Homo sapiens: one gene and its partners. The protein of the gene in region 1 purifies or fractionates together with the protein of each later gene. This does not show direct contact. Each region holds a gene or a part of one and is shown on either strand. Other genes may lie near its edges.

What was found.
Region 2: the proteins of MMP3 (region 1) and LFNG purify together in Homo sapiens (co-immunoprecipitation; one large-scale study listed by IntAct). This does not show direct contact.
Region 3: the proteins of MMP3 (region 1) and CDH24 purify together in Homo sapiens (co-immunoprecipitation; one large-scale study listed by IntAct). This does not show direct contact.
Region 4: the proteins of MMP3 (region 1) and CLN5 purify together in Homo sapiens (affinity purification with mass spectrometry, with the first as the bait; one large-scale study listed by BioGRID). This does not show direct contact.

The regions. Positions count from the first base shown.
Region 1 is NC_000011.10:102,835,029-102,838,198, reverse strand, and holds the end of MMP3 (stromelysin-1 preproprotein), read left to right. Parts: intron 1-797; coding exon 798-901; intron 902-1,432; exon of another isoform or gene 1,433-1,761; intron 1,762-1,972; coding exon 1,973-2,073; 3' UTR 2,074-2,398; downstream 2,399-3,170. UniProt on the Homo sapiens protein: Metalloproteinase with a rather broad substrate specificity that can degrade fibronectin, laminin, gelatins of type I, III, IV, and V; collagens III, IV, X, and IX, and cartilage proteoglycans.
Region 2 is NC_000007.14:2,522,774-2,525,851, forward strand, and holds part of LFNG (beta-1,3-N-acetylglucosaminyltransferase lunatic fringe), read left to right. Parts: intron 1-1,921; coding exon 1,922-1,970; intron 1,971-2,445; coding exon 2,446-2,545; intron 2,546-2,640; coding exon 2,641-2,794; intron 2,795-2,911; coding exon 2,912-2,997; intron 2,998-3,078. UniProt on the Homo sapiens protein: Glycosyltransferase that initiates the elongation of O-linked fucose residues attached to EGF-like repeats in the extracellular domain of Notch molecules.
Region 3 is NC_000014.9:23,047,521-23,051,020, forward strand, and holds part of CDH24 (cadherin-24), read right to left. Parts: intron 2,424-3,500; coding exon 2,302-2,423; intron 2,219-2,301; coding exon 2,107-2,218; intron 1,756-2,106; coding exon 1,507-1,755; intron 960-1,506; coding exon 460-959; 3' UTR 1-459. UniProt on the Homo sapiens protein: Cadherins are calcium-dependent cell adhesion proteins. They preferentially interact with themselves in a homophilic manner in connecting cells; cadherins may thus contribute to the sorting of heterogeneous cell types.
Region 4 is NC_000013.11:76,998,581-77,002,080, reverse strand, and holds part of CLN5 (bis(monoacylglycero)phosphate synthase CLN5), read right to left. Parts: intron 1,624-3,500; coding exon 1,112-1,623; 3' UTR 1-1,111. UniProt on the Homo sapiens protein: Exhibits palmitoyl protein thioesterase (S-depalmitoylation) activity in vitro and most likely plays a role in protein S-depalmitoylation.

The DNA.
Region 1 (3,170 bases):
GTTCTGAGAACCCAGACCGCAATTTAGCGTTCCCTTCCCATTGTCTTTTAGTTTGGCTCACTGTCTCACTGTGTGTTTGTCACTGTCTCATTGTGTGTTTGTTTTGTCTTCCTAACACTACTATATGATTTTCAAGGGCTACCTCTAACCTCACCCACTTGTCACCTCTACCTGATAATGATGGCTCATTTAAGAGATGATGATCAATAGCAGTCCAGTTTATGGATACAACCCAACACTCACAGACAGGTTGATTCCTGGGTCATTTGGCCAGACTTTGAGACATCGAGGCCGACCATCTGATATCCAGCCAATGGGCTAAAAACACACTTACTGTGCTTTGCTTCTTATCCTAATCCCTTTTCCCAGGAGGCCACCAGAGAAGATTTAGATGTGCAGGGGAGGGGACAGCAGGCATATATGGGCCAATTGTGGTAGGGAATTAAAATTGCATTTTAGATGTTGATTCAATTCACTTTATATATATGTTCACACTTTCATGTCTTTGTGACAGAAAGATGATTAAGGTTCTTTCTGTCCAGGCTTAAGAAATATGATGACAAACAGCATGTGCTACATACAGCAGGATGCGGCCCCTGTTCCGGATGGAGATATGGCTTTCAGAACTCTTTACAGTACCATTAAAGTCACATATTTCTATAGTCCCAAATATGCTTGGCATTTATTTGCAGTATTTATAAAGTTTAGTAAAATTCCACATTAAACCTAACATGATCTAAGATGTTCGGTAACATGGCCTCTATGCAATGCTGAGCTGTTTCTTTTACTTGGTACAGATTTGATGAGAAGAGAAATTCCATGGAGCCAGGCTTTCCCAAGCAAATAGCTGAAGACTTTCCAGGGATTGACTCAAAGATTGATGCTGTTTTTGAAGAATTTGGTAAGAGGATACTTACTGTGTTGGCCATAGAGCACTTGAAACATTTTATGATATCAGAGGGAAGAGGAGCATTGAAACTTTTTAATAACAAGTGTTTCTTAGGGCCAGTTCCCTTCTCAAAATTTTGATTCGCCTACATTTGTACTCATTATAGAACTACTTCACAAAATAACTTGTTTGGAACCATAAAGATAATTACACAAATCTCGCTACTTTATCTTATACATGCATATAAAATCAAAGTGCTCCAGTGTCACTTACATCTCGAGCTAACATGTGGAGTCAAGCTCGACTTTCAGATTACCATGTTAGCATAAAAATCCCATCAAGTGGTGTGGCCAGGTTTAATGTTGGTTAGCTGGCCTTCTCCTCCACCCTATCTTATTGCTGCTACTAATTCCCAGGGAGATTTTTTGTCTGTCTTTCCTGAGTTGTCAGTCATTGCCCATGCCAGTCATTTGCAAATACTTACCTTTCCATGTGCCCAAAGTTTAAAAAAAAAAAAAGATTTTGTTTTCTACTCAAGGTAAGGAAGTGGAGGCTGATGATCTTTATTGAAAGGTAACCTGATCACCATGTTTGCAGAGCACTAAAGGGTCCCCTGGTGTTTTGAAATAGTTGCTGTGCTTCCTAGGCTGCAATGCAGGGAAAAGGGAGGAGGATTTTTGGGGAAGAAAGAAATAGGTGATGAGAGTTTCCAAGCAAGTGGAGAATTTATCTGATCGGAAGCAGAATAACCCTGTAACCTGGAATCTGGCTGTGTTTTCAGACAGAGCTGGCACCGAGTGCTGTCTCCATTCTTCCTTGCTGAGTAACCTTGAGGAAGCATCGAAATCTGTCTCAACCTCAACTTGCTCAATCTGTAAATGGAGTTAGACATACAACCTCATAGGGTTGTTGCAGAAATAAATGAAAATAAATTCATGTAACAAGCTTGGCATAGTCCCTGACATAAAGTAAAGCTCTATAAACACTTTCTATTTTTAGTTCTCTATGATTCTGAGTTTTGTATATTGTCAAATGTCTTTATTTGGAAAAATATCTTACTATTTCCCTTGTCTGTATTTGCAGGGTTCTTTTATTTCTTTACTGGATCTTCACAGTTGGAGTTTGACCCAAATGCAAAGAAAGTGACACACACTTTGAAGAGTAACAGCTGGCTTAATTGTTGAAAGAGATATGTAGAAGGCACAATATGGGCACTTTAAATGAAGCTAATAATTCTTCACCTAAGTCTCTGTGAATTGAAATGTTCGTTTTCTCCTGCCTGTGCTGTGACTCGAGTCACACTCAAGGGAACTTGAGCGTGAATCTGTATCTTGCCGGTCATTTTTATGTTATTACAGGGCATTCAAATGGGCTGCTGCTTAGCTTGCACCTTGTCACATAGAGTGATCTTTCCCAAGAGAAGGGGAAGCACTCGTGTGCAACAGACAAGTGACTGTATCTGTGTAGACTATTTGCTTATTTAATAAAGACGATTTGTCAGTTATTTTATCTTATTGTTGTGTTTGTTTGTTTCAAGGGCAAGTTGTTCTCATAATTTGGGCACTTTATGGGCTGAGCATGCTCAGCCAGTAGACTAGAGTCTCCATGGCTTGGGGTTCACAATGGGTTCCAGAACTGCAGAGAATCTACCACTTGCCCTCCTCATGAGCCCTGCAAACAGGATGCTTATTTCTACCACCTAGACATTTTATGTGTCCTGACATACCTAAGGCAAAAAATCTAGAGGGGTTGTGACATTGTAGAGCAGGCTCTAGGAAAAACTGTGAAGGGAATCCTATAATCATAGCAAATTGCCTTGTTTGCACATCTCATTTTACAGGGTGAGGAAATCAGACTTGTTTTTCATCTTTTCCTTTTACTTATAAATTCCCTCAGTGCAGGTCCCTCCCCTGACCTAGCAAGCAAACTTCCTCATATCTACCCTATTCACATGGTAAAATATACTCTTGTACTCATTTTGTATCTGCCTGTGCCTGGATGTAAATGCCCATTGGCAAATGACGATTCTAACATTGGTTTATCATCCATAACTAATGTCTCTAGCACAATGCCTCGTACATGGTAAGAGCCGTTTTTAACTTATCCATTCATCTGAGAGTAATTTACAAATCATATTCCATATGCCAGGCATTATGCTAGGTTGCAGGCATAAGAATATGAAAATAATAGACACAGGCCCCTGCCCTCATCGAGATTATAATCCAGCGAAAAGAACACGTGTAGATAACCACAAATATAAATACGCAATTGTAAATTTCAT
Region 2 (3,078 bases), on another chromosome or scaffold:
CTGGTAATGGCACCCACCTCCGAGGGCTGTCAGGGAGAGGAAGGGAGAGAATCTGTCTTTGCACTTTGTTCTCTGCCCAGGGGAGCTCTGTTATGCCCATTTTACTGAAGACGAGACTGAGGCTCTGAGCGGCAGGTGAGGCCTATAGCCCAGCAGCGCCTTTTTCCTCCCCTCCTGGTGGCTCAGGTGTCGGGAGACAGTTCGACCGGCACCCCCGCACCCCATAGCCCCGCCTTCTCAGATGCTGTTCTAGAGGCCTCCCTGCTCCCTGAGCTGAACAAAGGTGACTTTAATCTCCGTAGCCTTGGGCTGGGTTTTTAGGGCACCACCAAATCTCGGGAGAACAGGCCTCCCTTGATCTCATTAAGAAAGCATTTTCCTTTTAACCCAGCGGCGCAGTGGAGCGTCTGCAGGGGCTGGCCCTCCGCCTCCCACGGCATTCCTGGGCTGAGATTCTGGGGAGGCCAAGGGGCTGGGTGCGAGTCTGTGCGTGTGGCTGCCCTGGGGTGTCTATGGGTGCTGCAGGAGGGGTGCATGCATGGAGAGGCGGAGACCCAGCCTGCCACCCCCTTAGCTCTGGGCCTCACCCTAGTGAGCATGTGCCCAGGGCTGGGTCAGGCTGGATAAGGATCTGAGACTACCAAGGTGTTCCAGGGCCTCTGCGGGACCTGTGTGTACAGGGAAGGAAACTGAGGCTGGGTGGGCATCAGGGGGTTGTCCCTTGGTCAGAGCATTGCCCGTACACCCTGGGTTTTGCACTCAGCCATGCCAGGGTGCGCCGGGCGGCACGCGCTGGGCGGGCCGGGCAGAGGAAGGAACATTCCTCCCCGTGTGCCGGCAGGCCCAGGCGGGCGCCGGCGACTCCTGGCCCCGCCCTGGCGGCCCCCTCCTCTTCCGCAGAGCGCTCCTGGCAGGGGGCGGCCGCGTGCTGGCACAGGTGGGCTGTGGCCTTGGGCAAGCCTGGGTTTCCTTGCCTGAGCAGTGGGAGGGGTGCTGGGCTGCATGGGTACTGGGGGCCCCTGACCTGGGGGCTGGGGACACCTGAGGTTTCCTGCCACAACCCTGCTGACCGTTGGCAACTTTGCAGAACTTCAGGGCTGCTTTGGCTCAGAGTGGGTAGCTTGTCCTGCAGGTCACCCAGGACAGGGGTGCTGGCCCAAAGGGCAGCTGTGGGGTGGCTGCAGTGCTGGTGGCTGCACCCTACGCGCGGGACCTCATGCCCAGCCTGGCCCGGTTAACCAGGCCAGCTGTATGGTAATGGGCGGCGCGGCCACTCTGCTTAACTCGGCCGAGTTAAGGCCGGCCCGGCGCCCCTCTCCCGCCAGCCCAGGACAAAGCTGGCGGACAATGCCTGGTGATTCATCCTCCCTCCAGGCCCTTTGTCCGCCAGGGCTTGGCAGCCGCCCAGCGAAGGCCTTTGTCCCCAACCCCGAGTGATTGAGACTTGGCTTCCCACAGCCGACCTCCTCCGCCTGTCCCTCCCGCCACCCCGCCTGTCCCCCGCCTTTCCAGCAGCCTCCAAGTGGCAGGCTGGGTGCTGTGTCAATAAGGGTGTGTGCCCTGCCAGGTGCACGGGGCGGGTCGGGAACCGGTTACCTGGCGGGCGGGCGAGGCGCACCACCTGGCTCGTGCCTCACCGCGCCTGGACGACCTTGGGTGCAGCTGTCGAGGTTGGGGAGTGAGGCCCCCATCCCCCACCCCCAGGGCGAGTGAATGCGTGAGCTCTGGCCCAGATGGCACTGAGATGGGGCACTTGAGCCCTTCTCAGCACGAGTGGGGAAACCAAGGCCCGGAGAAGGGTGGGTGTCAGTGTGACGCAGCTGCAGCTGCAGCAACTCCAGGGCGCCCCGTCCGGCCCCCACAGATGGCCCTGGGGTGGGGATGAAGGGCTGCCTGCTGAAGGCCGATTTTCTCCTTCCAGACGTTCATCTTCACTGACGGGGAAGATGAGGCCCTGGCCAGGCACACGGGTGAGCCCTGGACTTGGGGCGGGAGGGGGCCCAGGCCTCCATCCAGAGCCGAACGCTCCCCCTCCAGTCTCCCTGCCCCTCTGGGCCGAGAGGTCACCAAGGGCAGGACAGGGAGGGCAGTTTACTCATGGGGTTTGCTCCATGCCCCGCCCCACCACTCGGGCCCCCCAATTCTCATGCAAATGAAGCCCATTCAGCCCCCCGGGTCCCTTTGAGCCCAGGCAGCGGCAACAGGTGGCGGGTGCTGGGAAAAAGCTGCCTGAATGGGCGGGGGCGGGGCCGCCCTGGAAGGGGCTGGGCTGCGGGAGGGTCCACAGGCCCAAGCCCCGAGCTAGGGTGGGGGAGGCTACGGCCGCCGGGCCCAGCTTGAACTAGGGGGCTTTTCTCGAGCCCCTGGGCCCTGTGGCGTCCCCCAGGCCAGGCCCCTCTCTGGGAGCCGGCTCAGACCTACTCACAGCCGCTCCCCTGTCCACAGGCAACGTGGTCATCACAAACTGCTCGGCCGCCCACAGCCGCCAGGCGCTGTCCTGCAAGATGGCCGTGGAGTATGACCGCTTCATCGAGTCCGGCAGGAAGTGAGTGTGGCCCCGGGGGACCCCCATCTCCCTGCCCGAGCCTGGCAGCGCCCGCCCCGGCATGCCCTCCCCCGATGGCCCTGCCTTGTCCTCAGGTGGTTCTGCCACGTGGACGATGACAACTACGTCAACCTGCGGGCCCTGCTGCGGCTGCTGGCCAGCTACCCGCACACGCGGGACGTCTACGTCGGCAAGCCCAGCCTGGACAGGCCCATCCAGGCCATGGAGCGGGTCAGCGAGAACAAGGTGGTGAGTGCCTGCCCCTCCCAGTCCCCCACGCCCACGCGGAGCGCACACCCGGAGTGGGGGTGGGACCGTGAGGGGCAGCAGCGCCTGGGTCTCAGGACACCTTCTCCCTTCTCCCAGCGTCCTGTCCACTTCTGGTTTGCCACGGGCGGCGCTGGCTTCTGCATCAGCCGTGGGCTGGCTCTGAAGATGAGCCCGTGGGCCAGGTGAGTGCCCTGCACAGGTTAGGCCAGCCCGGTCCCAGGCTCCTCGCCACTGTGGGGCCTGGCTTAGTTCATCTTCCCAGC
Region 3 (3,500 bases), on another chromosome or scaffold:
TTGGGATGGACAACAGAAAAAAACAAAAAGCCAGTCACAGGGACCCAGAGAGAAGGAAGGGAGATGTGGGCAGGAGACAGACACAGAGCATGTGTATGGGCAAGGAAGACGCAGGGAGACTATGTGTGAGCTTCAGAACTGCAGAGACAAAACGCCACGGAGGAAGGAGAGGAATCACAGTGAGAGATCGCAGGGCCAGGGCCAGGGCAGGAAACCCAGGCCCGGACAGAGGAGCGTGTCACAGATAGAGACAAAGATTCCTGGAGAGAGACACACACACCGACTCAGGAGGAGGGAGGTGAGAGCGAGGGTGCCCCGGGGAAGCAAGGAGGGACACAAGGACAGGGAGGAGGCCTGGGGCCCCTGGGCTGCTGCCGCCCGCCTGGACCCCGTGGGGCTCACTCAGAGGGCCTGTGCCCGCTGCCCCCCCCCCGCGGTGGGCCGGGCCAGCCCGGGCGCTCAGGGGGCCGGGGGCTCCTTGGCCCCATACAGCTCGGCCAGGGTGCGGAAGAGCGGACCCCAGTCGTCCAGCGGCTCCGCGGGGCCGGGGGCGCCGCCGGCTTCGCTGCCGGAGCCCAGGGAGCTGAGGGAGCCGCAAGAGGAGCCGCGGCCCTCGTAGCCGTACACCTGCACCGAGTCGTACGGGGGTACGCCGGGGTCCTCGTCCGCCTCGCGGAGCCGCAGCGCCAGGAGCTGCGCCACGTCGGCGGGGCCGGGGGGTCTGGGCTGGCGCGACACCCGGGCCCGGGGCAACACGTCTCGGCGCGCGGGAGGGCCGGGCGCCGGGGGGGCCGCCCCGTCCGGGTTCTGCAAGGCCGTGATGTCGAAGGCCTCGGTGTCCTCCTCGCCGCCGCCCTCGTCGTCGTAGGTGATGATGTTCTCTCGGACGTCCTCCTCCTCCAGTACCATCAGTGCTTCTTGCTTCTGCCGCCGCAGGGCCACGAAGAGCACCACCAGGGCTGCGCGAGAGGCGCGCACACAGGCCCTGAGCCAGCAGGGCCGGGAGCGGGCGGCCTGTCTCCATGTGAAAGGCTGACCCATCAGGTGACAGAAGCCCTGTGCTTAGGGGCTGACATCTAGCAAACCTTGCATTGAATCCTGACTTCAGCCCTTACTCGCTATGTGACCATGGGAAGTTGCTAGACTTCTCTGAAGCCTCAATTTGCCCCTTAGATTACTTATGTGGAGAATAGGGAAAATATATTTACTTCTAAGGGTTGTTGACATAATAAAATGAAATATCACAAGTGACGTGCCCAGCACTATACTTGGCACAGAGTAGGGGCTCAGTAAACCATTGTTATGGCTTGTCATTGTCATTATGGATTGGCAGGTCACGGATAGAGGCCAGAGCTTTTCTCTTGGATGCATCAGGTGGTGGGAAAATCCAGGTATGAGGGTCGTTCAAGCCCTAAGGTGGATTTCCCTGTGTCCAGAGGCCTGGTTCTTCTCCACACCCCTGCAGGCCCAGATCGCACAGCTATGTACCACTGTGGCCTGACTCACCAAGCAGGGCACCCACACAGGTGATGATGGCAAGCAGGGCGCCGGTGCTGAGCCCAGCAGCTGAGAGGTGAGCCTCAGGCCAGCAGGATGCCACAGAGCCGTCAGGCTGGCAGCGGCACACACTAACAGTCACTGTGGCAGTGCTGCTCAGCGCCGGCTGCCCCCAGTCCCACAGTTCTATGGGAACCAAGTAGGGGGCATGGCGGGGTGGAGCAGGGCGGGAGGGCAGCAGCAGGCTGGCGGAGCCATCTGTGGGAGAGGGAAGGTGTTGAGGTATCTTCTGGGACACCTTCCAGGTAGGGTTGGTCCAGCCCATAGAGCCAGCTTCCCATAGAGCCAGCCCCCCATAGAGCCAGCCCATAGGTCCAGCCCATAGAGCCAGCTTCCCATAGAGCCAGCCCATAGGTCCAGCCCATAGAGCCAGCTTCCCATGGGGAAGGTTTACAAAGAGCCAACGAATGAGTACAAGTCCACACCCATCTTCTGTTGGGTAGAAGGCCGAGGCAGGTGGGGCAGGGGTCAGGCAGGCTGGGCTAGGGGTGGAGGAGGAGGAGAAGGGGACAGAGGCAGGTATGGACATGGCTGTAGGAGGCCACCTACCTCGGTTGTCCTGGACAGTAAAGTTGGCATCAGGGCCCAGAGGACCTTGAAAGGAGACATGGCTACTGTTGCCAACTTCATCTCTGTCCAGGGCCCGGATGACCTGAATCAGCTGGGAGGAAGAAGAGAGAGGCCTTGTATGGAGTGGGCTGCTGGAGGCCTGGACGTCCCAACCCCTCTGCCTCAGTTGCTCACCTGGCCAGGAGCTGCAGAGTCACACACAAAAGTATCGTAGGGCTCAGCCAGCTGGGGAGCATTGTCATTCTCATCCAGGGTCTGGATGGCCACTTGCACGCGCGAGGCCTGTGCAGAACTGTCTGAAGGCAGAACACCAAAACATACACGCCACACACACACCACACAGTTTACACGTAACATATGTGGTGCATGGGCATGGATGCCACATGAAGCATATAGCATGCACAAGAAACACATGAAATATGCATGTAATGTACAGGTAGAAAACAATGTTGCAGAATGAATGGAACAATACCAAGTGCATACAATATTCATGTAGTACCCAAGATATGTGCGATACACAATAGACATTCAACAGGAATGCCGCACCCATGATACACATATACAATAACCCACATGCAGGGCACATGCAGCATAAATGAAAGACAGAGGGAAGGTGCATACGAGTTGCATGCAGACAACAGCCATGAATATACAAAACACATTCATACCATATATCCAATGTACACTCAACATTTAAAACAAATGCAATGTACATGAAGCAAATGTTTGATATGCATAGTGAATGTGGTGCCACATCCCCCGACAACACCCAGTGCCCATAGAATGCATTTTCATGCATAGAGGCCATGCACAGCACCAGTGGGGTGGACAGACACATATACACACCACACACACACACACACACACACACACACACACACACACATCCCATCAGAGGTCTGGGAGGCTGTAGTACAGCAGTGAGCATCACTTATCTTGGGTAGAAAGGTGCTGCATGATCTACAGGGTGCAGAGCCCAGGCCAGCCTGGGTACCACAGCCAGACACAGGCCCCATCTTTACCCATCCCTTCATCAGGTGACTCCCTACCACTACCCTACCTTGCTTCTCACTGCCAGTGCCTTCCAAGAGAGAATGCAAAGTGTGTCTCCCTGTCACCTCTCTTAGGCCAGGTCTCCCAATTCCTTTAGTCTTTCCCCTAGGCAGAGGGATAGCTGACTAGCCTTGGGGAAAGGGGCTGAGGATGCAGCATGGGCAGGGGAGGCTGAGTGGATCGCCTGGCTAAAAGGATTGGGATACCCCAGAGACAGGATGGGGAGGAGGTCTACTTCTTCCCTGCGGTAAGGGCCCAGCACTGCTAGGTGATGTCTGGGTGCGGGTAGGAGCAGGATTTGGCAGGAGAATGAGAAGACA
Region 4 (3,500 bases), on another chromosome or scaffold:
TCTTACTGAATGGTGTTTTCTCCTTGAATAGAAACGTGTTCAGTTGATCATCAAATACTTAAAGGACCTTGAAAGCTTGTCTGGCTCTAATTAAAGCACAGCTACTTGGTGATCTTAACAGAAACCTGTCCTCTCTCGGAGAAGTGCAACCTCTTCCACTGCGCTGACAGCTTTGTGGGAAGAGGGAGAACTACAGGAAACAATGAAGAAGTCAGAAGGTGCCTGTTTACCCAAACGTGTCTGCAGCCATGTTCCTGCATACCCCGGTTAGAAGAACCGCTGAAGCACTATGCTATCAGCTTAAAATCTAGGTGACTACAAAACCCTGGAAAGTTTGGCACATAAACTACATTAGGCAAGATCAAGGATGACATTTGTTCTTTGATTAATCATTATCACTGCCATTCAATGTGACCTGCCAAACATACACAACTTACATCTTTACAGCAATCCTAAATCCTAAGATTTAGTGATGTTAGTATGCTTAAAGAACACAAGCCAGTTACTAGCTAGTTCCAAAATCTCAGCCAGAAATATGTGTTAACACTGGATTTGCCACATCTAGAAGCACAATCACTCCAGTTATGGTGTCTAAACGAATGTCTAAAGTTAGGTGAATGGAATGTAATCAGACTATACTAAACTTGGTTCCAAAAGTTATAGAAGTTGTAAAGTTAGTCTAAACTAAAGCACTTAAGTGAAAAAGTGTAACTGCCATATCAGAAAGAAGAGCTCCCACCATGAAAATGTCACTGAATGTATTTTTTATTTTTGAAGGTATTTTTAAAATCTGGGCACACCATATCTATCTGTAGGACCCTGGGTCCAAAGGTCCTACATAACTGATATGAACCATAATTCTCCATATTAACAAAGGCTCGGAAATTGAAACCAAGATCACCTAACTCGCTCACTTTGGCCAATATAGTACGAATTTCAGCTTCTTTACAAGAGAAGAGTCCTGAGATGTTAATATGCAGCAATTCTGCTGATGTGCATTTTAACTTTATGCACCAAGGAAGAAAGGCTAAGGAATTCACAAAAGTAAAATCACCCCCTGAAAAACAGATGCTGGTGATTGGAGAAAAAAGAGCAGTAGAATTAAGGTGTTTTATAAACCAGAGAGTGTTTTGTTTCTGATAGGTAAAGGGATTTCTTCATATGTTATTTTAATAAAAGGGAATTTCATAGGTAAAAACCAATATTCAAAATTATAAAACAAATAGAACTGTTTGTGCACAATCACTGCATCAAAAATTTGCAAGAGACTCAACAGAAATTCTTTAGTTGGCAAATGTGGTTTGAAGGGGTAATAAAATCTTTTTATGGCTAAACCAAGAGTCTTGTTTCCTGTTGGCCCAAAAACAGATGTTTCATTTCCCAGATAAGTAGGTTCTCCACTGTAAAGAAATATTCTTGTATAGTTGGTTTCTATGTTCTTGAACTCTGCTCCAAATTCAGCCAACTTGTTAAAGGTCCTTAACACAAATTTGGAACAGTCGTAGGAATCAAACCATGTCTCTGCCCCCTTTTCTGGGCTGGCTTTTACATTCCATGTCTCATAATAAATTCCTGTTTCATTGTCCTGTTTCACCCACTTTGCCATTTGGTTGAACATGTTTCCTAGTTTAAAAAAACAAAACAAAGTCACCTAGTGAACAAAGCTAATCATGTTAATTTTTTTTTTTTTTTTTTTTAAGACAGGTCTCCCTCTGTTGCCGAGGCTAGAGTGCGGTGGTAACATCACAGCTCACTGCAGCCTTGACCTCCTGGGCTTAAGTGATCCTCCCACCTCGGCCTCCTGAGTAGCTGGGACTACAGGCGCTGGCCACCAAACCCAACTAATTTTTTAATTTTTCTTTTTTTTAATTTGAGACCAGCCTGGGCAACACGGGGTCTTGCTGTATTGCCCAGGCTGGTCTCAAATTCCCAACCTCAAGTGATCCTCCTGCTTCAGCATTCTAAAGCACTGGGATTATAGGTTTGAGCTACCATGGCTGGCCTAATCATATTAATTTTAAGTAAAATGTTCTAACTTGATTAAGACTGGATGCCTGAGTAAACAATGGTTTTGAATTTCCACACCTGCATTTCACAACAGGAATCCAAGCTCAGCCAATTTTATTCCATTCTTCAAGGCACAAGATATTTCTGAATTATAAACATTAGATATAATAGGTGTATAAGGAGAAGTCATCTTACATACTAATTCTATAATCATTTAAGCTATAGTCAAAGCGAAATTATACAAATGCAGAAGCTCTCTTTCTCTACCCAACTCACCAAATCTTGGATTCAGAGGCAAAAGAGAAAAGGAAAGCACAAAAAGAATTGCGAAAGAGGAAAAGCAGAATGGGCAAAGACAGTGTAAGGAAAATGGAGGTGTGGGAAATGTGGAGCTTCACTGTTGCAAAGCATGCTACACATAAAGTATGAATGGCTGCCTGAGGAGCCACTGCTCTAGAAGGCTGGCTATTACTGTTATGAGAACAAGCACCATACCCCATCCACCTTGTGTGTTTGGTACGTTTCTTTCTTCCCTGTACTTGGAGTTGCTGGGATGCTGCTGATGACCTCTCCACCTGCCACGTTAAGTCCTTCCAACAAATCAACTAAACTGGAAATGTTTTAGGCCGAGTTCATACTCCAGGATGGCTAACCCTCTCTTCTACCATCTTGTACTAGACCAGAAGAATCTTTCCAAATATTCAGAAAACACTACTCTGCATGGTTACAACTCTCATCTTGGGCATTTATAATGCCTAATAGAACTGGGCCCCAAACACTGCATCCTGTCACTGTGTGCAAACCTCTTTGGTTACTCCAACTTGAGTCCATAAAATAAATACTTCATGTTCTGTAAAATGAATAGAGTGACTGCCTTTATCAATTTTATGGAATTAAAATTGTAGAACAGAATAAAGCCTGTTGTATTAGAACTGGGGATACTGTTCTTAGCATTCTTCAACTTTCAAATGCCACCACTATCCTTATGAGACAAGAATGCTTCAAAACACTATTTTGTCAATCACAGGATTATTCACAAGGCAAATAAATGACTTAAAAGATTTAAGTACTGGCATATTTTGAACTATTTTACAAAAAATAGTGATCACTTATTCATATGATCATTGACTTTATGTCAGAAGGAAGGATTTTCAGATAACGATGTAGGTGGAAATGGGGAAAGGTGTGAACTGGCCTGGAATGAAAGAAAGAACCGCTAATGATGGACTTTTGTATTGTTGGTATGGTTTAAGGCACATTGATTAGAAAGTAGCAGGAAATATTAGAAAACAACATGGTGCATTCGGCTAACAGATCCTTGTTACATTTAAAAGACCTCAGTTTTATTCCTGATTCTGCTACATCCAGCTCTTTGACCTTGAGAGGCAAGTAAGTCATGTTACCTGGCTGAGCCTCAATTCCTTATTTGCAGAGAATGAGTATCTTATCCTCTCCACTGAACCGTGAGTTAACATACCTCCAAATCATTTGTA